Linked DNA regions of Homo sapiens. The protein of the gene in region 4 interacts with the protein of the main gene of each other region in a biochemical or structural test. Each region holds a gene or a part of one and is shown on either strand. Other genes may lie near its edges. The genes, in order: STAT3, GSTP1, HNF4A and MAPK8.

What was found.
Region 1: of the proteins of MAPK8 (region 4) and STAT3, one has a biochemical effect on the other in vitro, tested with the Homo sapiens proteins (2 studies listed by BioGRID).
Region 2: the proteins of MAPK8 (region 4) and GSTP1 form a complex in vitro, tested with the Homo sapiens proteins (2 studies listed by BioGRID).
Region 3: of the proteins of MAPK8 (region 4) and HNF4A, one has a biochemical effect on the other in vitro, tested with the Homo sapiens proteins (one study listed by IntAct).

The regions. Positions count from the first base shown.
Region 1 is NC_000017.11:42,312,809-42,315,464, forward strand, and holds the end of STAT3 (signal transducer and activator of transcription 3), read right to left. Parts: 3' UTR 516-2,656; downstream 1-515. UniProt on the Homo sapiens protein: Signal transducer and transcription activator that mediates cellular responses to interleukins, KITLG/SCF, LEP and other growth factors. Once activated, recruits coactivators, such as NCOA1 or MED1, to the promoter region of the target gene.
Region 2 is NC_000011.10:67,579,547-67,586,835, reverse strand, and holds GSTP1 (glutathione S-transferase P), read right to left. Parts: upstream 3,025-7,289; 5' UTR 2,993-3,024; coding exon 2,992-2,992; intron 2,703-2,991; coding exon 2,667-2,702; intron 2,373-2,666; coding exon 2,266-2,372; intron 2,152-2,265; coding exon 2,064-2,151; intron 1,699-2,063; coding exon 1,595-1,698; intron 733-1,594; coding exon 625-732; intron 448-624; coding exon 259-447; 3' UTR 183-258; downstream 1-182. UniProt on the Homo sapiens protein: Conjugation of reduced glutathione to a wide number of exogenous and endogenous hydrophobic electrophiles. Involved in the formation of glutathione conjugates of both prostaglandin A2 (PGA2) and prostaglandin J2 (PGJ2).
Region 3 is NC_000020.11:44,400,694-44,407,730, reverse strand, and holds part of HNF4A (hepatocyte nuclear factor 4-alpha), read right to left. Parts: exon of another isoform or gene 6,359-7,037; coding exon of another isoform or gene 6,244-6,358; intron 5,178-6,243; coding exon of another isoform or gene 5,087-5,177; intron 1,674-5,086; coding exon 1,499-1,673; intron 351-1,498; coding exon 256-350; intron 1-255. UniProt on the Homo sapiens protein: Transcriptional regulator which controls the expression of hepatic genes during the transition of endodermal cells to hepatic progenitor cells, facilitating the recruitment of RNA pol II to the promoters of target genes. Activates the transcription of CYP2C38.
Region 4 is NC_000010.11:48,400,652-48,407,688, reverse strand, and holds part of MAPK8 (mitogen-activated protein kinase 8), read right to left. Parts: intron 6,078-7,037; 5' UTR 6,029-6,077; coding exon 5,907-6,028; intron 2,838-5,906; coding exon 2,708-2,837; intron 1-2,707. UniProt on the Homo sapiens protein: Serine/threonine-protein kinase involved in various processes such as cell proliferation, differentiation, migration, transformation and programmed cell death.

The DNA.
Region 1 (2,656 bases), on a different chromosome or scaffold from region 4:
GGGGTGGGGAGAAGCCCTGTGGGCGCCCGCGTAGCTGAGGTTGGGGCGCCTTTCCCTGCATTATCACCGCTGGCTGCCGGGGGCCCTGCAGCCACCACCGGGTGTCTGCGTGTTGTCCCCGCTGGGTGAACTGAAGGGAAAGTGATAAAGGAGCCAACTGTGGAAGGGGAGGCCTTGGTGCGGTGGGAGTATCTACCCCCCACCCCGCTTAGGTGGCTTATCTGACCCCAGACAGGACGAGGCCGCTCTGGGGGGTAGGAGGGGGCCGGGGAGGGAGGCCTCCACTCTGACACCTTTCTGCCGTTGGACTATTGACCTCCTGCTCCTCCAGGCACCCCTTACCTCCGGGCTGGTGGCTAACATAAGGGGGTTGGCGGGGGGGATTAAGGCAACCACCTCCTCTCAAGACCCTTTCCGGCCCTTATCCCAGGCCCCACCTGTGTGTGAGGCCCCCTCAGAACTTATGCAGGGGAAAAGGAAGCCTCCACCAGCCAAACAGAGCTGCCATGCTATCAGACGGTTCCTATATAACGTTTATTTCTGGAAGTTAAAGTAGATACAGCAATATACCAAAAAAAAAAAAAAAAAAAAAAGACAAAAAACCTCACAATAATATAAATTTTTACACTATGAAGTACACATTGGAATTTGAATGCAGTGGCCAGGACAGCAGCTTATAAACCACCTTATAGGTAGGTAAGCAACCCACGGGATTCCCTCGGCTGGGCTGGGGATGGGGAGGGGGCAGTGGACAGGAAGCGGGCAGGGCCTGAGGACCCTGTTCTTTAATGGGCCACAACAGGGCTCAGCTCCTCTCAGAACTTTTGCTACAATCAGAGTTAAGACCAGATACATGCTACCTAAGGCCATGAACTTGACAATATCTGCTCCAGAGAAGCCCTGAACCCTCGCCCTAGGTCCCTATGATTTAAACCCAATGGTAAGCCCAAGTCTCACCTTTCTAAATATTCTGTTTATCAGTTAAGCTTATTATGTACTGAAGAGTGTTGCTGGAGAAGTAAGAGCTCTGCATGACACATCAACTGTCTCCAGGCAGGAGGACTGGGGCGAACCCTGTTCATCTTAGAGAAGGTCGTCTCCCCCTTAATTCAGAGACCAGCTAATTTGATTTAACAAACAGAATTCCACAGAAACTCTGATCAGCTGAGGCAAGGTGGTTTTGAGTTGCCAAATCCGGCCATGCCTCTGAGTCAGAGGCAGCCCATCCAGCACGTGCTAGGTGTTCCCATACGCACAGGAGAGGCGAGCTAGCCAGCCAAGGCGGGCAGGCGGGGAGGCCCTCTAGCTGTTCTGCCTCACCTGTGGGGCCCCAGCAGGGAGGAGTCACCAGCCTCAGAGGGAGGCCAGGTATACACCCTCATACGAGGGCAGACTCAAGTTTATCAGTAAGCCTTTGCCCTGCATGAACTGAATGAAGACGCCATTACAAGTGCCACTGGATATCACCAAGAAACTGGCTAAGAACCATATTCCCTGAGCTCAACCAGACACGTCGCTGGGGCCCCATAGTGTGCATCATGTCCAACCTGTAACTCTCTCCCCCTCTTCTTCCATGAGGTCCTGAGACCAGGATTCCTAAAACAAACAGGATGAGGGACCTTTAGACACGCAAGGAGACATGCCTCTAGCAGGATCAGGGGGACTGGGGTCGGGAGGGTGGGGCAGGAAGGAAGCCAGAATCAGAAGTATCCCAGCCCTGATAAGGCACCCACAGAAACAACCTAGCCTCTGAAACAGCAGATCAAGTCCAGGGAGAAAGGGAGTCAAGGTTGTAAGCACCCTCTGCCCAGCCTTACTCACTAAAAGGCCAATACATTACAAAGGAAAATAAGTCTATTTATAAAAAAAAGTCTAAAATGCTTAGATTCTCCTTAAACCTTCCTATTTCAACACCAAAGGCCAGGTTGCAGCTTCAGATGTCTTAAGGGTTTGACCTGAAGCCCGTTTCAGGGATTATATAAATTACCAGCCTGAAGGAAGCTGAATGCTTAAAGCACCAAGGAGGCTGTTAACTGAAGTTTCTTTTTTTTTTTTTTTTTTTTGAGACAGAGTCTCAGACTGTCGCCCAGGATGGAGTGCAGTGTGCAGTGGTGCAATTTTGGCTCACTGCAACCTCCGCCTCTCAGGTTCAAGCGATTCTCCTGCCTCAGCCTCCCGAGTAGCTGGGACTACAGGCGCCCACCACCACACCCAGCTAATTTTTTGTACTTTTAGTAGAGACGGGGTTTCACCGTGTTAGCCAGGATGGTCTTGATCTCCTGACCTTATGATCCGCCTCGGCCTCCCAAAGTGCTGGGATTACAGGCGTGAGCCACCATGCCCGGCTGCTTAAGTTTCTTAAATACAGAAAGGCTATGCTGATACAGTGTTTTTTGCCCTTTAATTGTTATTATTTCTTAATTTAAAAAGAAACCTAGGGCTTAGATAGTCCTATCTTCTATTTGGATGTCAGCAAGGTTAAAAAGTGCAATGCCAGGAGTATGTAGCTATAGGTGGCCTGTGGCATTTGCTTACAGAAACAGGCAGAAGGATGCCGCAGGCACCAGGAGGCACTTGTCTAAGAACAACAACAACAATAACAAAAAGCTGCTGAGAAAGGAGGGCAGGGGAACAAAACAACACAAGACATTTCCTT
Region 2 (7,289 bases), on a different chromosome or scaffold from region 4:
CTCTCTCTTTTTTTTTCTTCCTCTTCTAGTTTGTGAGGTTCAGTAAACACAGCCAGGCTGAGGGCTCCAGGAAGCCACTGACTGTGCTGGAGGAGCTGTTTTCTAGTCCTCTGCTCTGCCCTCCCACCGACCTCGAGGCTGAGAACCCCTAAGCCCCGTCCCAGGAAACACAGTGCTCATAGTAGCTCTCTTAGAAATTTTATTGGTCCTGGAGAAAGGAAGGCAAACTCTGCCTCCCGCTCAGAGTCCCCCCAACCCTCACTGTTTCCCGTTGCCATTGATGGGGAGGTTCACGTACTCAGGGGAGGCCAGGAAGGCCTTGAGCTTGGGCCGGGCACTGAGGCGCCCCACATATGCTGAGAGCAGGGGGAACGCATCCAGGCAGCCAGGGGCTAGGACCTCATGGATCAGCAGCAAGTCCAGCAGGTTGTAGTCAGCGAAGGAGATCTGCAGGGCAGGGGGGCCAGGGACTCAGCCAGCGGGAGCAGGCTGGAGGAATTGGGGGCAGAGGGCCTAAGCCCATCCCCTAGGTCTGCTCTGCTTTGCTAAACAAATGGCTCACACCTGTGTCCATCTGGAAGCAGAGGGTGGCGAGGAAGGAACAGCATGGGGCCAGATGCTCACCTGGTCTCCCACAATGAAGGTCTTGCCTCCCTGGTTCTGGGACAGCAGGGTCTCAAAAGGCTTCAGTTGCCCGGGCAGTGCCTTCACATAGTCATCCTTGCCCGCCTCCTGCCAGACACCACCATGTATCATCCTACTCTCATCCCTCCCAGCCCCTGAGACACCCCCGTCTGCCCCAGGCCAGACACCAGAGTCCCAGATTCTCCTCTGCTTGCTCCCCACAACCAGGCTAGTACCAAATCCTGTCCACTTCAGCTGCCAACTCATCTCTATTCCATTCTGCCTGTCCATCCTTGCTGGGTTCTCTCACCAGATGATTGCAAAAGCTTTAGAGCTGGCTTCTCTGGAGGATCCTTCTAGACCTCACATTCAGACACAGCCCTGTTCAGACTTCTCAATGGCCCCCATTGCCCTTAGGAGACTCCAAACCAGTGGGTTCAAGGCCTTCGGGACCTGGGCCTACTGCCCGCCCATCTCTATCTCCTTACCCACCCGACACAAATGCAAGCGTACACACACACACGCACACACATGCACACGCACGCGCACACACGCTGCCTCTGCTGAACTGGTCCCAGGTCCCCAAATGTGCTCTGTGTCTGCATATTTTCCTCAGCTAAAAGTGCCAGCACCTCCATCCAGAAACTGGCGACAAATCCTCCTCCACCTCTGGCTACTCCAGGAAGCCCTCGCCACCCCAGGAGATCAGAAACCACCAGTTGCTGGAGGTCTCTGTCCTTGCACTCGCCCCCATGACCCGTTACTTGGCTGGTTGATGTCCCAGGCAATAAGGGTGCAGGTTGTGTCTTGTCCCAGGCCCCTGGGCCCCTGGCCCAGAGCTGACCCAGCCCCTGCACCCTGACCCAAGAAGGGGTCAGCCCAAGCCACCTGAGGGGTAAGGGGGGTGAGGGCACAAGAAGCCCCTTTCTTTGTTCAGCCCCCAGTGCCCAACCCTGGTGCAGATGCTCACATAGTTGGTGTAGATGAGGGAGATGTATTTGCAGCGGAGGTCCTCCACGCCGTCATTCACCATGTCCACCAGGGCTGCCTCCTGCTGGTCCTTCCCATAGAGCCCTGGGGTTGGGTGGAGGGGAGCAGGCCGCGTGACTGGGCGCCTGATCAACACACAGTCACTGGGGATGGGCCAACCAGGGGGCTGTCTGTGAGCCCCAGCCTGGGAGGAGGGGAAGAGGATGTGCGTGGAAGGATGAGAGACTGCCACACAGCAGGTGCTCAGAGCTCACCTGACACCTGGGAGGCAGCCTGGCACAGGGCAAGGATTGCAGGCACCCAGGCTTGACCTTGGGCAAACTACGTAACCTCAGTGGGTCTCAGTTTCCTCCACTCCAGAGGGCTGCGGGGCAGCTGATTTAAACAAAAGGGCTCCGGGGGCAGAGGCTTGCCCATGCCTGCCCTGGACTTGGAGGTTCAAGACTCACCAAGGGTGCGGCCCAGGTGACGCAGGATGGTATTGGACTGGTACAGGGTGAGGTCTCCGTCCTGGAACTTGGGGAGCTGCCCGTATAGCTGTTGGGGGAGGCATGGCTCAGGGAGGGGCACTGAGCTTGGGCGTCCCCCGATCCTAGTCACAGCCCCCTAAGGCCCAGCACCCCCTCCCCTTGCCCGGGCATGGTCACTTACGCAGGAGGCTTTGAGTGAGCCCTCCTGCCACGTCTCCACGGTCACCACCTCCTCCTTCCAGCTCTGGCCCTGATCTGCCAGCAGCATGCGCAGGGCCGCGCAGCGGCCTGCGGGGAGGGAGAAGTACGAGATGTGGGGACCGGGCCGACTCCGCCTCGCAGCAACCCGGGGAGGGGTCAGGAGTGCAGGGAGGGAACAGGGAAACAGGTTCCTCCGAAGATTTCACACAACACTGGGGCGGGGAGCAGGCATGGCGGGAGAGGCGGGGAACAGGAAGGAGGCCCGGGGTAAAAGCCACACGACGGAGGGATAAGGGGGTTCGGATCTCTCCGGGTGGGCGAGGGGCTGTGGGCTGCAGCCCCAGCCCCTGCCTCCCTTCCCTGCCAGACACATGCTCCTACCTCGAACTGGGAAATAGACCACGGTGTAGGGCGGCACTGCAGCGAACAAAGAAAAGTTTGCTGGAGCCCGGGGGAGGATGCCAAGGCGCGGTGAGCGCAGTCTGCCCCCCCTCCCCGCCCCCGGGGTCCCATCCCTCCCCGAGGCGCTCCGGGCCCCCTGAAAGCCGCTAACGGCACTGGGGACGTCCTGGGTCCCCTAGGCCCCCGTCCCGGGTCTCGAGGTGGGCGAGGAGCCCTGCCGGGAGCCCGGGCCTGATGCTGCGGGTTGGCCCCATGCTGGGAGCTCTGAGCCCCATCCCCGGGGACGCGGGCCGCGCGTACTCACTGGTGGCGAAGACTGCGGCGGCGAAACTCCAGCGAAGGCCTCGCGGCCTCCGAGCCTTATAAGGGTGGTCCCGCCCCGCTCCGCCCCAGTGCTGAGTCACGGCGCCGGCCGCTCTTCTGGAGGGTCCCGCGGACTCCCGCCGGCCCCAGCCCCGGCGGCCGCTGCACCCCGGGCGTCGGCCGCAGAGGGGCGCCCTGGAGTCCCCGGAGTCGCCGCGCAGCTGGCCGGGGAAGCCTTTCCCTCTTTCCCAGGTCCCCAGCGGGGCCTAGGGAGTAAACAGACAGCAGGAAGAGGACCGCAGCGAAGTGTGCGCAGCGAACTGGCGCGCCGGGACATCGCGGGGGGAAATTCCCTAAGACCGCTGCGATCCCGGAGCTTGCACACCCGCTTCACAGGGCAGGGGAGAGGGGTGGAGGCCGCTTAGAGGAAAGGAAATTGCTTTATTTTATTTTATTTTATTTTATTTTTTTATTTTATTTTATTTTATTTTATTTTATTTTATTTTATTTTATTTTATTTTATTTTGTGTTATTTTATTTTATTTTATGACGTAGTCTCACGCTGTGGCCCAGGCTGGAGTGCAGTGGCGCGATCTCGGCGGCTCACTGCAACCTCCGCCTCTCGGGTTCAAGCAATTCTGCTTCAGCCTCCCGAGTAGGTGGAATTATAGGTGCGTGCCACATCTGGCTGATTTTTGTATTTTTAGTAGAGACGGGGTTTCACCATGTTGGCCGGGCTGGTCTCGAACTCCTGACCTTAGGTGATCTGCACGCCTCGGCTTCCCAAAGTGCTGGGATTACAGGCGTGAGCCACCACGCCTGGCCGTCCAACTTTTATTTGAAGTTCTGGGGTACATGTAGAGGATGTGCAGGTTTGTTACATAGGTGTGTGCGCCATGATGGTTTGCTGTACAGATCATCCCATCACCCAGGTATTAAGCCCAGTATCCCTTAGCTATTCTTCCTGGTACTCTCCCTCCCCAGCACCCCGCTCAACAGGCACCAGTGTGTGTTGATCGCCGCCATGTGACCATGTGTTCTCATTGTTCAGCTCCCACTTATAAGTGAGACCATGCGGTCTCGCTGGTTTTCTGTTCCTGTGTGAGTTTGCTGAGGCTAACGGCTTCCAGCTCCACCCATGTCCCTGCAAAGGACATGATCACGTTCCTTTTAGTGGCTGTGCCTTAGGCTATTTTCTTTGGCTTTGCTGCCTACTTTCTGTTGATTTGCAGATCTCCATTTATTCTAGATATTGATCTCTTGTTGGCTTTAGACATGACAGACAGCTTCTCCTATTCCATCAACTGTCAAGTTTGTCCAAGGAGTCTTTCATGAAACAAAACTCGTTAATTTAAGTGTAATCAAATTCAGCAAGGGATTTTTGTGGTGGGGAAGAGGTTGGTGTTTATGTTGTATCTTTAAAACTTCATTTAATGCAGCCATTAAAAAGAACTAGATCATGTCTTTTGTGGGAACATGGATGGAGCTAGAGGCTATTATCCTTAGCAAACTAATGCAGGAACAGAAATCCAAATACTGGATGTTCTCACTTGTAAGTGGGAGCTAAATGATGAGAACTTATAACACAAACAAGGAAACAACAGACACTGTGGTTGACTCCAGGGTGCAGGATGGGAGGAAGGAGAGGAGCAGAAAAGAGAACTATTGGGTACTCGGCATAATACCTGGGTGATGAAATATTCTGTACAACAAACACCGAAGACACGAGTTTACTTATGTAACAAACCTTCACATGTACCCCCAAAACAGAAATAAAAGTTAAAAAACAAAGAAATTTCATTTAAAAGTCTTTTTTAAGAGACTTATTATCGGGGGAAATTCAGCCCCCAATATTTCACGTGGGTCCTTTCCTATTTTCCCTAAGTGTCGGCTGGCCTGAGAAATAAAGGGAAAGAGTACAAAAGAGAGACATTTTAAAGCCGGGTGTCCAGGGGAGACATCACATGTCCGCAGGTTCCGTGATGCCCCCTGAGCCGTAAAACCAGCGAGTTTTTATTAGCAATTTTCAAAGAGGAGGGAGTGCACGAACAGGGTGTGGGTCACAGAGATCACATACTTCAAGGGCGACAAAAGATCACAGGGCAGAAGGTCACGGCGAAACTAGAATCACTAATGAACTTCCAGGTCCCACTGTGCACGCACTGTCAGGGTTCAAGAGCAGAGAACCGGTCTGACTAGAATTTGCCAGGCTGGAATTTCCTAATCCTATCAAGTCTGGGGGTGCTGCAGGAGACTAGGGCGTGTTTCATCCCTTTCTACTTCTGAATAAAGGCAGGCACTCTCAGGGAGGCCATTTCAGTGGCCCGGCCCTGGGAATGCATTCTTTTCTCAGGGCTGTTAATTATTAATATTCCTTACTGGGGAAAGAATTCAGCGATATTTCTCTTACCTGTTTGCGGTAATAAGAGAAGTATGGCTCTGTCCTGCCCAGCCCACAGGCAGCCAGACTTTAAGGTTATCTCCCTTGTTCCCTGAAAATTGCTGTTATCCTGTTCTTAAGATGCCCAGATTTCACATTGCTCAAACACACAACAATTGTCCTCTACAAACAATTTGTGCAGTTAACGCAGTCATCACAGGGTCCTAAGGCGACATACATCCTCAGTTTACGAAGATGACAGGATTAAGAGATTAAAGACAGGCATAGGAAATCACAAGAGTATTGATTGGGGAAGTGATAAATGTCCATGAAATCTTCACAATTTATGTTCTTCTGCCATGGCTTCAGCCAGTCCCTCCGTTCGGGGTGCCTGACTTCCCACAACATGTATGTTGCCGCAGCTGGTCTGGAACTCTTGGCCCCAAGTGATCCTCCTGCCTTACTTAGCCTCTCGAATAGCTGGGACTACAGGCATGTGCCACCACACCCAGCTAATTTTTGTATTTTTTGTAGAGATGGGGTTTCACCATGTTGCCCAGGCTGTCCTTTTTTTTTTTTTTTTTTTTTTAAATTTTCACCAATGGACTGAGGTCACAAGGAAGCTTTTTAAATTTTTGTCACCTTGGGTTTTCTTTAATTTCACTCTAATTGTCTAGCTTTGGTGCTCTTCCTGGCTTGCCAAGCTGTCTCTCTGGTTTGGCCTCTTGGCCCTTCGGTCTGAGGTTGGTCATCTTTCTTCAGTTTTGAGAAATGTATCTCCATTGTTTCTTCTGAGATGCCCTCTTCTCCGTCTTCTTCCTCTTCCTCCTCCTCCTCCTCTTCTTCTTCTTCTTTCTTCCTTGCACTATCTGGAAAATGGCCCTTCTAATCTATCCTCCTATCACTTTACTGCCTTTTTTTTTTTTTAGACAGGCTGTCACTCTACTGCCCAGGCTGGAGTGCACTGGCACCATCTCAGCTCACTGCAATCTCTGCTTCCTGGTTCAAGTGATTCTCCTGCCTCAGCCTCCTGAGTAGCTGGGATCACAGGTGCCTGCCACCACACCTGGCTAATTTTTGTATTTTTAGTAGAGACAGGGTTTCATCATGTTGGCCAGGCTGGTCTCAAACTCCTGACCTCAAGTGATCCACCTGCCTCGGGCTCCCAAAGTGCTGGGATTACAGGCGTGAGCCACTGCGCCTGGCCACTTCGATGTCATTTGTGTTTCTTCTGGTTTGTCTTTCCTGGGAGAGAGTTCCCCAGCTGATCTCATCACTCACCTCTTCATCCATGAGTCGCATACCTCGTATGATTCATCCCATCTGTTGTTGGCTTTCTTCGATTATTGTTTTTATATCTACTCTTTCTTTTTGTTGCTTTTTGTAACTTCCTATTGCCAGTGCCTTCTCTCATGTCCTCATGATTTCTCTTGTGTGTATTCTCCGTCTGTGTGCTGCACTCATTCAGCGTCAGGGGATGTTCCTGTCCCCTGAGATGTCTCCCCTGGAACCAGTGAGCTTGTGCCCTTCCCTTGGTGGCACTGGTCATTCTCTCGGGTAGTATGCCAGCCTGTGGTTTCAAAGCAAAGGAAGGAGATAAGCACCACCAAACCACAGCCAACCTCTCCCCTTTGCTATCGCTCTTCAAACAGAGCTTGAGGTCAGAGTTTCCCCTTCCGAACCTTGGGAAGCAGCGCTGGGGAAGGTGGCTCCCCATGTTCTAATGTGCTGGTGCTGGGTGTTTCCAGGGGAAGTGTGGGAGGGAGAAAGCCCGCCCCATTCAGTCCCACTGTTCTCCCCAGTGCCTCACCCAGCAGAGGGTAGCAGAGGCTAACTTCGGTTTAGCCTGCACCAGGGTCAGTGTTCAGCAGTGACATCCCCTCAACAACTCCAGAGAGTACTAATAAAGGAACTGAATG
Region 3 (7,037 bases), on a different chromosome or scaffold from region 4:
AGGCAGGCAGGGGTGGTGGTTGCTGGGAGCCTGAGGAGCCAAGAGTGGGAGCTTATCTCTCTGAATCTTTCTCAAGACCAAGCCCAGCCGCTCCCTATGGTCAGATTTCCAGGCCCTCCCTCTTCTCAGCCATTAGCCAGTCACCCTGGGGCCTGCCACTGAGTCATAAAGTGTGGCTACAGTTGTAAATGACTGTCGGGGAGCTGTGGGTGCAGGTGGGGCAGTGGTGGTGGGGCGGGGAGGGCCGAGGCTCACCTTCCTTCTTCATGCCAGCCCGGAAGCATTTCTTGAGCCTGCAGTAGCGGCACTGGTTCCTCTTGTCTTTGTCCACCACGCACTGCCGGCTAAATCTGGGGAGGGCTTTGGATGGTTGGATGGAGAAGACACAACTTCCTCCTCTTAGGACAGAACTAGGGCCCTGGCTATCCAGTTGACCCCCCAACCTCAGTGCTCTCATCTCTTCATCCCGGGAGTTCTCTCTTGAACCCACCAGGAGCTGGAAAGGTGCTATGAACTCTCTAAGAGCCCAGTCCTGTCCTGCTAAACATGGGAAAACTGAGGCTCAGAGAGGCAACATGTGGTCCTGGGTCGCTCTGCTGGTTGGTGTTAGAGCTGAGTTGGGAACCTTGACCTCTGGAGTACCAGAGCCCTGCTATTTCCACCACATCCTATAAAAGCTCAGAACCCATAGCAGGCTCCTGGTTATGGCTCAGAGTTAATACTCGGTTCACATAAGCCTCTCTCTGGAGGGGGATAGGAAGTAGAGGCAGTGCCACACCGTGGTGATGGGTGGGGCCCTGAATGTTAACCCTGGCTCTGCCAGTGATTCAAGCTGGTTGACCTTGGGCAAATGCCTAGCCCTCCAAGCCACAGCTTCCTCCTCTATAAAATGGGAATAACAACAGTAACCATCTCACAGGGGTGTTGACAGGTGAAATGAAGTCATGCGCCGATGGGGCACAGTCTTTGTACATGACAAGTGCTCGCAATTGACAGCTGCTATGATTTTATTATTGTCATTACCCAGAACAGGAGATGCTTTCGAAAGAGGGCTCTCCAAGGCCTTGGGAAGACTTTGGGGTTGGTGGAAGCCCCTGGGGTAGGTGGAACGGCCTGGGGTCAATCTCCTATTTGTCCCAAAAACAGCACCAGACTGGAAGACGGGCTCATCTACTGAGGCTTCAGGAGAGGCCCCATGGAATGGGAAAAACAACAATGGGCTCAAGGGGATGGGTAAATACACACAAAGACTTAGTATTGTGCCTGGCATATGATAAGAGCTCAATAAACGGCAGCCAGTAGCTTGATGATCAGTAAATGTGGTTCCTAGAATAGATGCTCTTCTTGGATTCACAAAGTCTTTTACAAAACCAGAAGAGCCTTGAAGGCCCTGAAGGGCAGCTGTCTCTGGGACCTACCCACTCAGGGAGAAGACAGACCTTGGGGCCATGAGCCCAAGTGTGCCCATTTCCCAGCTGAAGAAATTGAGGCTCCTCACCTGCAGGAGTACATGTGGTTCTTCCGCACGCTCCTCCGGAAGAAGCCCTTGCAGCCGTCACAGCTCGAGGCACCGTAGTGTTTGCCCGTGGCCCGGTCCCCGCAGATGGCACACAGGGCGCTGACACCCAGGCTGTTGGGCGCGTTGAGGTTGGTGCCTTCTGATGGGGACGTGTCTGCGCCAGGAGAGAAGGGAGTGAGGCTTCAGGAAGAACAGAATGTCAGGCATCTAAGGGAGCCTTGCGGGGATCTCTCCAGGGCTTCGGCCTCAGCCAGATCTGGGGGCTGTTCCCACTCCATCACCTCCCCACTCAGTGACCTCCTGACTTTTTGGAGCTTCAGTTTCACATCTGTAAACTGGGGCTGGTTGTGACTTCACAGACTTGTTTCTGAGGGTCTGCGTCTTCCTGTGGTGGAGGCCACGAGCCCCAGCTTTCTCTAGGAAGGCATGAAAACCTGGCCACCTTCTGGGGTGGGAGCCGGCCTCCTAACTCGCAAGGGGGCTGTGGAAGGGAGAAACATTCCCCTGCATTTTCCCCAGAACCAGGTCCTGTCCCTCAGTTCTTGCCAAGGGACCAGGGCTGGGTGGATCTCAGCTTGTGTGCCCAGGGGCCCCGCAAATTCTCTGAGGAACGAGAAAGACTTGGGCCGAGAACAGTCACACTCATGTGGCCTCCTAGGAGGGTCTGGACACATCTCCCATCCCTCCCATCCCACAGGCAAAAGCTACTGCATCTACACAAATGTGAGGGGGGCCGTAGAGGCAGGTGGAAAGAGGATCTTGGGCTGGGTGCCAGGAGTCCTGGGCACTACTGCTGATGCTGCCACTAACTCGCCTGTAAACTTGGGCAACTTCGCTTTCCCTGCTTCAATTTCTTCTGGGCCTCATTTTCTCTAACCATAAAAGGCAGCAGTTTGACTGGTCTGTTTCCAAATTTAAAAAATTTAAAAAATTTAAAAAATTTGTTTCCAAATTTAAAAAAATAGCAGCAGCTGAACCCCCTTTATTTGTCAGCAAATCTTTCAGCAAAGATAGACCCCTTTGAAGAAGATGACAAATGCAATGGGTCAGCCCCCGGGAAAATGCAAGCGTGTGTGCCACACAGTCCACACACACGCACACACGCTACGCACAAGCACACACACGCACCACACAGTCCACACACACGCACCACACAGTCCACACACAAGCACACACACGCACCACACAGTCCACACACACGCACACACCACACACAAGCACACACACACCTTACACACCACAGTCCACACACACCACACAGTTCCCACACACGCACACACACCACACACAAGCACACACACACCACACACACCACAGTTCACACACACCAAGCAGTCACACACACGCGCACACACACCACACAGTCACGCACACACACACCACAGTTCACACACACCACACAGTCCACACACCACACAGACACACGCACACACACACATATATACACACATGTGTACACATACAGTACACACACATGAACACAGAGTCCACACATAAGCACACACACGCTCCACACACATGCACACACATACACACAGTCCACACATGCACACAGTCCACATACATTGCACACACTTGCACATAGTCCACACACATGCATACATACAAACACATCAACACACACATATACAAATGTGTGCACACATACAGTCCACACATATACATACACATACACACAGTCCACACACACATGCTCACATGCACAAACATACACACATACACAGACACACACACACACACGTGTATTCATAGAAATCCTGAATCCAACCTTGGATTCCTCAGGGGCATCCAGTTAAGACCCAGAGAGGGCCATGCACTGTAGGTAACAGCACAGCCTCTGAAGTCCTTCTGCCCAGGGTTCAATTCCAGCTTGCCCACTTTTTAGCCGTGTGACATTGACTGTGTTCGTTTACTTCTCTATGCTTTTGTTTCCTCACTTGTAAAATGGGGAACGTGATATTCCCCTAGGTTCGTTATGGGGATTCGGTGAATTCTCATATGTGTATGTGAAGTGCTTGGCACATAGTAAGCACTATATCAGTGTTCATGAAATAAAAACTTTTCCACATAGGAAAACTCTCGGAGCAGAGGACTTCCAGGCTCCTTGCACAAGCAGACACTGCCGCATCTCATTTCTGCCATCGCAGACTCCCAGGTGTCCCCAGGAGTGCAGCCCCCTCCACTTGGTGAATTATTCCTGGAGATGGGGATAATTGTTAAGCCACGTGGGTGCCCTTTCTCCCTCGGCCTCTCCTCCCCCGACCCCCGGGGAGAGCTGACCCCCACAGCTCCTGGCCATTCAGCAGGAGGCTGGGGAAGTAGCTCCCACCTCTGAGGCAGGATGGGCTGGGGGCTGTCAGCTCTATCATCTCCCCTCTGAGGTCAGCCGAGCACCTCTATTCCACAGATGAGGACACTGAGGCTTAGAGAGGAAAAGTGGCTTCCTGGTGTCATCGCACTGCTTCCCGTGAAGCAGAGCCATGGGTTTATGGTCCAGGCTTGCTGGGCTACTCCAGCCAGTGCCACACATGTTGAGGTGTCTGCTGGGCCTCTAATGAACAAGGAGCCACCCAGGGCTGCTGCTCCATTGGGGTGGGGAGAGGACGGGGGAGAAATATCCTTGGAGCCTTTCAGACACCAGCCCAGGATGTACTCAAAACACTTCAGAGGACAACTTCACATAACCCCAATTCAGACCACTTCAAACTCCAGTGAGGAATGTGGGGACCCTGCTTACAGATGCTCAGAGCCCTTGAGATGACCCATGGTGGGGCCAGGCCCTTTACCAGGGCTAAGCACCCAGGCACCTCATCTTATTTATCCTCTGGCCAGCCCTGGGAGACAGACACTATTATTTATTCCCATTTTATAGGTGAGGAAACTGAGGCTCAGAGAGGAAATTGCCTTGCCACATTCACACAGGTTGGAAGGATCTATGCCGGATTTGAGCCCAGATCTTTCTGGTTCCAGAGCTGGAGGTGGTCTTGTCTTTGGGACTCCCAGTTCAGGGGCTTGGCCTCTGCCTCAGGAGCACACAGTTCCTGGGCTTGGAAAAAGTGATGGGGGCGGGGAGCAGCCCAGGGCAGGGCAGTGGTCCTCGTGGGGCCACACAACACTCCACCTAGTGCAGCAGCAGCTTGTTTGCTATCTCTGGTGTGTTTTTGCCTTGCGCTCCTGGCGTGGTCCTCAGACAGGCCTAAAAGCCGTCCAGCCAGCAGGCCTGGGGGAATGAAGCCTGTTTTGTAGAAGATACAGAAGCCAGGATAGGGGAGGTGACATGCCCAAGGTCACACGTGACTGGACGGCAGGGGCAGGTGAGCACCTGCTGAGCTGACAACAAGCAGTGCCCAGCAGCTGCCTCCTCACCCTAGCTGAGCTGACCACAAGATTCCAGACCTCAGCTGGAGCTGCAGCCTCATACTGGCTGAGTGGCTCCAAGACACAGAAGGAAGCAGGGTGGCAGGCTGACCTCAGCCAGCTGCCTGCCCCCTCTCCTCTGAGGCTGGCCTGGGACCGATGGGGCTCTTCCCTCCAGGAGGGGTTTCCGGGCCTCCTCTTTTCCCCTACCTCCCTGTGGAGAACTGTCCACCCCTCCAGATATGCTCCAGTGATGTCGGAGGGGATGCCTCAATCTGGCGAGACGCAGCGGCAACAAAATCTGCTCAGAGACAAACGGACATGTTGCTGATATGAATCTCACTTGGTGAGTGGCAACAACAGAGTCCTGCATTTGGGTCTGTGCAGTCGTGCACACCAGAGACCGCTGACCCCCGCCCGCAGCACAGGGAACTGCATATATACACAGCAGGTACAAATATGGGCACACGACAAAACGCCCATACAGGATAAAGATGCAGGAAGAACAGGGCACTCCAACAGGTCCGCATGCACAAACGCATGTGCTCTATGACCCGCACACACAGCACACATGTACAAACATCCACAGACACAAGTACACACACATACACACTTACATACATAAGCAAGATCAACACGGGCAACTCCTAAGACACAAACACAGACCCACTCAATGAATACAAAGGAAAATAGACCCAGAACTCACACACAGAGACAAATGAACACACATATGCAAATGGGTTCCTGAAGGCATCACCCCACCCATACAACCTACATGGAAACTCACTATCACACACGAACGCACACACAACACACACAGTGCTGAGTTGGCTTCGTAGTTAGCAAAACTTCCCTGAGAGCTCCATTTTCCCTAAGTGCCAATTTCATTTCCCTAGGAAAGTCCCAAAGACACCGAGAAATGCGGTTATGTCTCCAACCACCATCTCCAGGGATACAACATCCCTTGCCGTCTCTCTGAACCTAGGCCCAAGGGGTTCACGAAGGGGCCGTGCTGGGCTGAATCGCTGGAGCTGGGCACCAAGGGGGAGCTCACCATCACGTCACTGTGCCAAGCGCCAAGCAGAGCCACTGTGAGGCAGTGAGGACTGGAAGGGCCTGGGAGGAATAGCCGGGATCGACTTTTGCTGGAAATTGGCCCTTGCAGGCCTCCCTTCACCCAGAATGCCTGTGATCACTGTGCCTGGGCACATGGGCTTCACTTGGCAACACCTGTGCTGGCCTGTAGGACCAACCTACCATTTTGTATCATTCTCCTCCCACCCCAAAGTTGAGTGCCAAAGATCTGCTCCTGGACCCAGGCACACCTGCCCCCACTGGCACACCTGGGCACATCTGCCCCCACCTACCATTGCCCATCGTCAACACCTGCACATTCTCAAATTCCAGGGTGGTGTAGGCTGGGTCCAGTGCAGCACTGTAGTCGGCCATGTCCATGTCGACGAGGGTTTTGGAGAGTCGCATTCTCCCTGCCTCCACGCCGCGGCCACCTGCCCTACCCTGGGCGCCCACCCCGAAGGCCCCCGCCCTCCGCCCTCCCACTGCCTCCTCCCAGTGCCCTCTCTGCCTTCCTTTCAAACCGTCCTCTGGGAAGATCTGCTGGGAGTCTTGGCCTAGCCTCTGTGAAGGGGTGGAGGCTCTGCCGGGGAGGGGTGGGGGTTAATGGTTAATCGGTCCCCCGCCGGTGGATAGGCTGGGCGGGGCTGCAGGGATTTGGCTGTTTGTTGGTTTCTGGCTGACACCCGGGGTGCTAATTACAACTGCTGGGGCCCTAACTCACCGATGTTCAGTTATCAATTGTACAAGGCAGGCATCATGACTCACGGGCACTCATTTGACCCTTGACTCACCCACCCCTCCAAGCCATTGTCACCCCAAGTCAGGCATTCTAACTGATACTATCAGGCACTGACAGCCTACCTCCGAGATCCCCTAATTCAATAACTTCCCAAATCATTGACTTCTACCCTCAATGCTTTTGCAGAGATAAGGCTGCCCCATGGCCCACGATTTAGAAACCTAAATCCCAGGCCCCAGATGCCAATCTTCTGGATCCTTGTTCTGGGAGCTCCCTTCCAGTTCCCCCGCAGTTTCCCGGTTCCCCTGGGAGCAGAATGGACTGGAAGTTTGGGAGGGCCAGATT
Region 4 (7,037 bases):
CACATATCACTGAATATACTAAAAACCACTGAATGGTATACTTCAAATGGGTGAATTGCATGACACAGAAATTATATTTCAATAAAGCTGTTATAAAAGAGATTCAAACAGATAGTTGTCCCATTTTTCAAAAAGGGAAATAAAGGAAATTATATCAGTTATAGACTGGACAGCCAAGCAAAAGTCAATGATTAGTAGTGGTATATAACTACTTCAAAAGAAGTAACAATTACCAAGAGCAGGTAAAAGTTCATTGAGAAATACTATTTCCTTCCATGAATAAAAACAACAAAGAACAATAGCAATAAATCAGAAAAATGCAACCAGACACAGTATATGAAGATTTCAAAATGGCATTTTACAAAATGTTTCTAATAATAACATCCATGTGAATAAGATGATGAATTGGAAACAGCTGGATAACTGTGATAGTTAGACACGTAATTTCTGCAATATGCTCAAAAGTTGCTAATGAATTAATCCAGCTATTACAAAGATATCCTGAGCAAAACTGGGAAGTGAAGCCCACAAGTGAAAAGTCAGAACAAGGAAGAAAAAAGCAATCACAGCAATCACTAGTAGACCAGGAAGAGCAACCACATTTCACCTTTGAAATTTAATAGGGAGAAACATGAAGTACTATACTTAATTCTCCATAATCAAAAGAAAAAATATAAAGACTGGGTGAGATGGGAACTGTAAGGCAGGCCTGTAACAAAGAAAGACAACGGGAGTCAGATGGGGACGAAATTTCTAAACAGGGTTTTAATGTCTACAGTTAAGAGATGACATGCCTCAGCTCCTCTCAGAGGATTTGATCAGACGTGCAGTACTGTGTGCTAGGTGGCTTATGCAGTAGTGTGTGCTAGGTCACTTTCAAAGTGTGTTCAGAGATAAACGGCCAAGATTAAAAAAGAAACTCAAGACCATCTATGAAAAGAATGAGAAAAACCAGAGATGCTTAGACCAGTGAAGAGACAATCTGTACAGAGGATGAAATTGTTTAAAAGGCAAAACACTACAAAAACATCCATCCATGGGTGAGTGGAATAATTCAGTTACCATTTCCAGTTTTCCCATATTTAGCTTTATACTCACTCACTGAACAAATATATTCTGAGTACCTACTCTTGTCCACACTCTTCTAGGTGCTGAGAGTTCTGCCTGGATAAACCTCTGCCACCCCTGCTAGAGGCCTAATCATGTGAGACATGCTTAGTCATACTCCATGCAGTTGAAGGAACCACCTTTCTTTGCAGTCACCCAGGCTTGAGAGGTAGGATTAACTGAACTCCTCCCCAAGGAAAAACTAAGGCAACACCACCACTGCCATGGAACTGCGTTCACAGGCCACAAGGGGCACGAGCAGCTCTATCCATGGACAGGATGCCACCAGCAAAACTGTGATGAGCAACACATCAAGTTCCCGCTTGGAACAAGAATGGCTACCACAACTTCCTCCCTATTATTATCTAAGTTTAATCTTTGTCTCTGGACCTTTTTTACGTCATTCTTCCTCTCTGAAGGCTCCTTTCCTTCAACAATCCAATTTTTACCCCATCTTTAAGAGTCAGCCTAGGTCTACTCCTCCCCAAAGCCTTCCCAGTTAATTAAAGCTCACAGAAATCGTCCCTCTTTTTAGATTTCAATATATGGGCCACCATCATCATTTGACAAACGGCCACTGCTTTGTGATGTTTGATATTTAACTCTCTGTATGTCTGTTTTGTATTCAAAACACCATTGTAAGCTCCCCAAATAAAGGGCCTAATCCTGAACTTCCATGATTTTTTTTTCCCTTGATAATGAACCCAGTAACTCCAATACACAGAGGCCTGCACATATTTAGATCTCAAAATGTGGTAAATTGTATTATCTGTAGTCAGAAGGTACTGTGCTCATTATATTATATAAACTCTTTTGGACAAACACTACGAAATGTCTTTAGTCAGATGCCTTCGGTTTAGGACTGCCTAAAAGTGTCCCTTACACAATTCACTCCTAGTTTATTTCCTCAACTGAAGAAATCATTCCATTAGAACAATCACAAAAGTATGAATAAGCTTAATGTAAGTTTAAAAAAGTATAACTGTTTATTCTCAAAATGAGTGCAACTTATATATCTTTATAAAGACTTATCTTTGCAATCATTAGAAAATAGAATTAGAAACATGTTAATACCCTCTAGATAGTTTCAAACACTTTCTGCTAAACCCACTATCCTCATCATAAAGTGATCAGTGAATACTGCCATCACTTAAAGAGGTGGGAGTGGGGTAGGGAGAAGTGATATAAATTTTATATTCAATATGATTAAAGTCAGAGTGTCAAAGCATAATGGGAACAATTTCATCTCTGTGCTAATGCTACAGTTTTCTAAATGTCAGCCTGACGGAGAACAAAAAGCAGAAGATGAGATCAAGCTGAATAAAATTCTTCTCAAACGCTTATCTTTTTAAAACTCCTTTTGTAAATTAAATGACAGGAAATCATATAATCTAAATTTTAGAAGCCATTCTTCTGATACAATTTAATAAAGTTGAGGAAAATCACCCTGTAGATATATATATATATATATATATCCCTTTTAAACAATGTTTTAATACAGAACAATTTAAAGCCCCTAATATTTAGTCTTTGATATTCACATATTCATGAATAAATCTTGATTTCATCTATACTTAGGAAACCAAAAATGTTCACTTACATTTTTGTGATTAACACATTTCATAAGAACTAGCTCTCTGTAGGCCCGCTTGGCATGAGTCTGATTCTGAAATGGTCGGCTTAGCTTCTTGATTGCAACATTTCTTTCAAGAATGGCATCATAAGCTGCGCTGTAATAAGAAATTCAAAAACACACAAAAAAACTTCAAGCAAAAATCTGTAAACTGAATTCATGAAACAGTCATATACATTTCTCACTTTCTCCAAAGACAAGTAACTGGATCCCTTCCAAGTCTATGACGCTCAACATGTGTCTTCTATATCTATTACAACATATATTTTTTTGCAACTATTTCCTAAAATGCTAATGGATCCAAATAGACAGTGGACTATGCCAACAGAGACCCTGCATGTTCGTTGTGTTGCCTCAAAGATCCACCTAGTACATCGTGGGCACTCAATGTACAAATCCATAATTATTTAGCTCCACTAGATAGCCTAAAGCCTAAATAAATCCTTAACCTTGTACTTCCATCAAGAAAAGGTAGGATAAAGAATGCATACGAGGCTGGGTGCAGTGGCTCACGCCTGTAATCCCAGCACTTTGGGAGGTCAAGGTGGGTGGATCATGAGGTCAGGAGATCGAGACCATCCTGGCCAACACAGTGAAACTCCGCCTCTACTAAAATACAAAAAAATTAGCTGGGTGTGATGGTGCACACCTGTAGTCCCAGCTACTTGAGAGGCTAAGGCAAGGGAATCACTTGAACCTGGGAGGCGGAAGTTGCAGTGAGCCAAGATCGCACCACCGCACTCCAGCCTGGTAGACTCCCTCAAAAAAAAAAAAAGCATATAAATTCTACTCAAAAGATTTGCTGAATAATTCTATGTAAACACATTACTTCTATCCTTTTGGACACAATAAAATAAATACAGAAGGGCCAGGCGCAGTGGCTCACGCCTGTAATCCCAGCACTTTGGGAGGCCGAGGCGGGTAGATCACGAGATCAGGAGATCGAGACCATCCCGGCTAACATGGTGAAACCCTGTCTCTACTAAAAATACACACACACACACACACACACACACACACACACACACACAAATTAGCCGGGCGTGGTGGCAGGCACCTGTAGCCCCAGCTACTCCGGAGGCTGAGGCGGGAGAATGGCGTGAACCCGGGAGGCGGAGCTTGCAGTGAGCCAAGATCACGCCACTGCACTCTAGCCTGGGCGACAGAGTGAGACTCTGTCTCAAAAAAAAACAAAAAAACAAAAAAACAAAAAACAAAAAACAAAATCTGAACAGAGAGCTGGCTTTCAGAATCCTAATACTGACTATATAATATGATTTTCTTTAAATTTAATTTATGGTTGGTTAAATGTGGTTGGTTACAATGAGAACAGGCCAGTCAAAACGGCTTACAAAATGACTCCAACTTCTATAATTTTTGATATTGTAAATTACTTCAAGAATGCAGGAAAGATAATAAATGCCATTCTATTATGCAAATTTATTAAATCTTAATACGTTACCATAATTGCTCTGATTTTTTTTTTTTTTTTAGACGGAGTCTCACTCTATCACCCAGGCTGGAGTGCAGTGACACCATCTCAGCTCACCACAACCTCCACCTCCCGGGTTCAAGCTATTCTCCTGCCTCCGCCTCCCAAGTAGCTGGGATTACAGGCATGTGCCACCATGCCCAGCTAATTTTTGTATTTTGAGTACAGACAGGGTTTCACCATGTTGGCCAGGCTGGTCTTGAACTCCTGACCTCATGATCCACCCACCTCGGCCTCCCAAAGTGCGGGGATTATAGGCGTGAGCCACCGCGCCCGGCTTGCTCTGAATTTTTTAGAAAGAAATATAATATTATAGGTCAAACCTCCTTTCTTTTCTCTATTTTCTCAGAGATAAACAACATCCTAAGTTTGGTATTTATGCATGTTTTAATCTTTTGTACATATATATAATCCATAAATATATGGTACTGCTTTGCATATTTTAAGCTACATGTAAATGGTATAATGATGTATATATATATTCTACATCTTGCTTTGAAGCCCAGCACTACATTTCTGAGGTTATCCTTGTTGACACATATGGCTCCAGTTCGTTTAAAATGTTATATAGTATTTCACAGCATGACTGTATCACAATTTTTTATTCTTCTGTTGATAGATTTGATGCTATTTCCAATTTTTGCTGTTATAAATGGTGCTGCAAACACCAATCCTATGCATGACTCCCTGTGCACATGTAAAACAGTTTTTTTAGAACCTAGGAGAAATACTGGATTATAAATACTTAACAGTTTACATTTTGTTTAGAATAGATTCTGAAATTTGTTTCAAGAAGAGGTAATAAAAATATAATTATTCTTGAGTGAGGCTTATAATTCCCCAAAACACTAGTTTATTATTATGCTAATTTAGTGATCTGCAATCAGTATCAGAACTATCCCAAAGAGTGATCTGCATTTCAGTTTATAAAGAATTATGCTGATATAGCCTGAGGCTTTTGTAGAAATTAGCTAATAAATCAATTTTAAACATATGGATGAATTTTGAAACACACACAGTGAGATATTAGCTGACTTCATTCCCCAGTATAGAATAAGATTTCTGAAATTCCACGCTTCATTATAGTGTGAAAGTGATGACTAAGTGAAGCTTCTTATTAAACAATTATCTATGGGAATACATGTATACATGAAATTAACAAGCATGCCACTTATTCTTTGCTGATAGAGATATTTGTCTTCAATGGCTATGCCCAAGTATTTAATCATAGTTTATACTTAAAGATGGCAGTGCTAGTTTATAGAGTTGTATCTTATGAATAATACAGGTTATTATCCCAAATCTGAAAATATGAAATCTAAAATGCTCGAGAATCTAAATTTTGGGGGCACTGACATGATGCTCAAAGGAAATGTTCACTGAAGTATTTCTGATTTGAATTTGGAATGCTCAACCAATGCAAATATTCCAAAATCTGACACTTCTGGTCCTAAGCATTTCAGATAAGGGATACTCAACCTTTAATAATAATAATAAAGAAAAGACCATTGATCCTGAAGCAAACAATTTACTGTGGAATAGTTTTCGTTTAATTTTTAGTTTTAATTTAATTTTTCAAAGCAAGTTAAATATTTGCCAAGGTATCTAAATTACGAGAGGAGAAAAGGTAGCAGTTAATGATTCTTTGCCTAATTTTTGGAAGTAAACACTTACCATACTATTCCTTGAGCTCCTGAGCCTATAGGTTTTAAATTCTGATATCGTTTCAGGACTGTGAATGTAGAATCTCCAATCTCTACACTATAAAAATTGTTGTCACGCTTGCTTCTGCTCATGATGGCAAGCAATTAATTTAATGGCTTCATCCAAAAATTCACCAAGAAGCTGCAAGATGCAACAAAACATGATGTTAACAAAATGAACTTGTTTTAATCTTAAAATTTGAGTCCTTACTGTTTACGTACTGATAGTAACACAGACTGCTAGATCATGAAAAGAGCTGCTTCATTAAAAAACATAAGAAAAAAAATACCGCAGAGCCTTGATTAGCATATGCCATATGAATGACTGATAGTTTTTTTTAAAAAAGAAACATTAGGATAAATCATTCCTCCAATCTAGAAGTTACCAGTATTAATACATTAATAACTTACAAGACGAACAAAAGAAAGCAAATAATTAAAATTAAACATGTTTTTACGTCACTCCACAGTTTAAAATTTAAAACCAGTCTTTCTCATGTGCTTATTATAGAGAATAAAAACCTTAATTTTTGTAAGAAATTTATAAACTTTGATTCAAAAATGGTTAAGTCTCATTTAGTGCCAAGTGGAGGGAACAACAAATGGAAATAAGTTGACTAGCATGTGTCATCCTTGCCTAAAAAACAAAGGGTACCACAGTGCCTTCACTGTGACAGATCCTCTGACCTGCCAAGGCAACCTCCTGGTGTAACACACATACTGAGACTGTAATGGGTGAAAGGATGAGAAGCAAAACAGAAAGGAGAGAGAGAGAAGTAGTTAGGCATATTGGGATACAAAACAAAACAATACTATTCTATCCTGCCTGAGGCATTAAAAGTACGATTCAACTTCTGACTACCATTCCTTTACTACTTGTAGGATTAAAAATCAAGACACTTTTTTTCTACCCATGTGAATACTGGTTATTAACAAACTTATCCATCCTTACTAGACAAAAGAGACTATTCCAAAATGTATGCAAAGCAGCTTTAACCTATTCCTCGCCTCCTCAATAAGTCATGAAACCAATTAGGTCTAAAGTTATTGTTTTTTGTGGTTTTAAGATAATGCTAACCCCCAAGAAATCCTGATATGACTT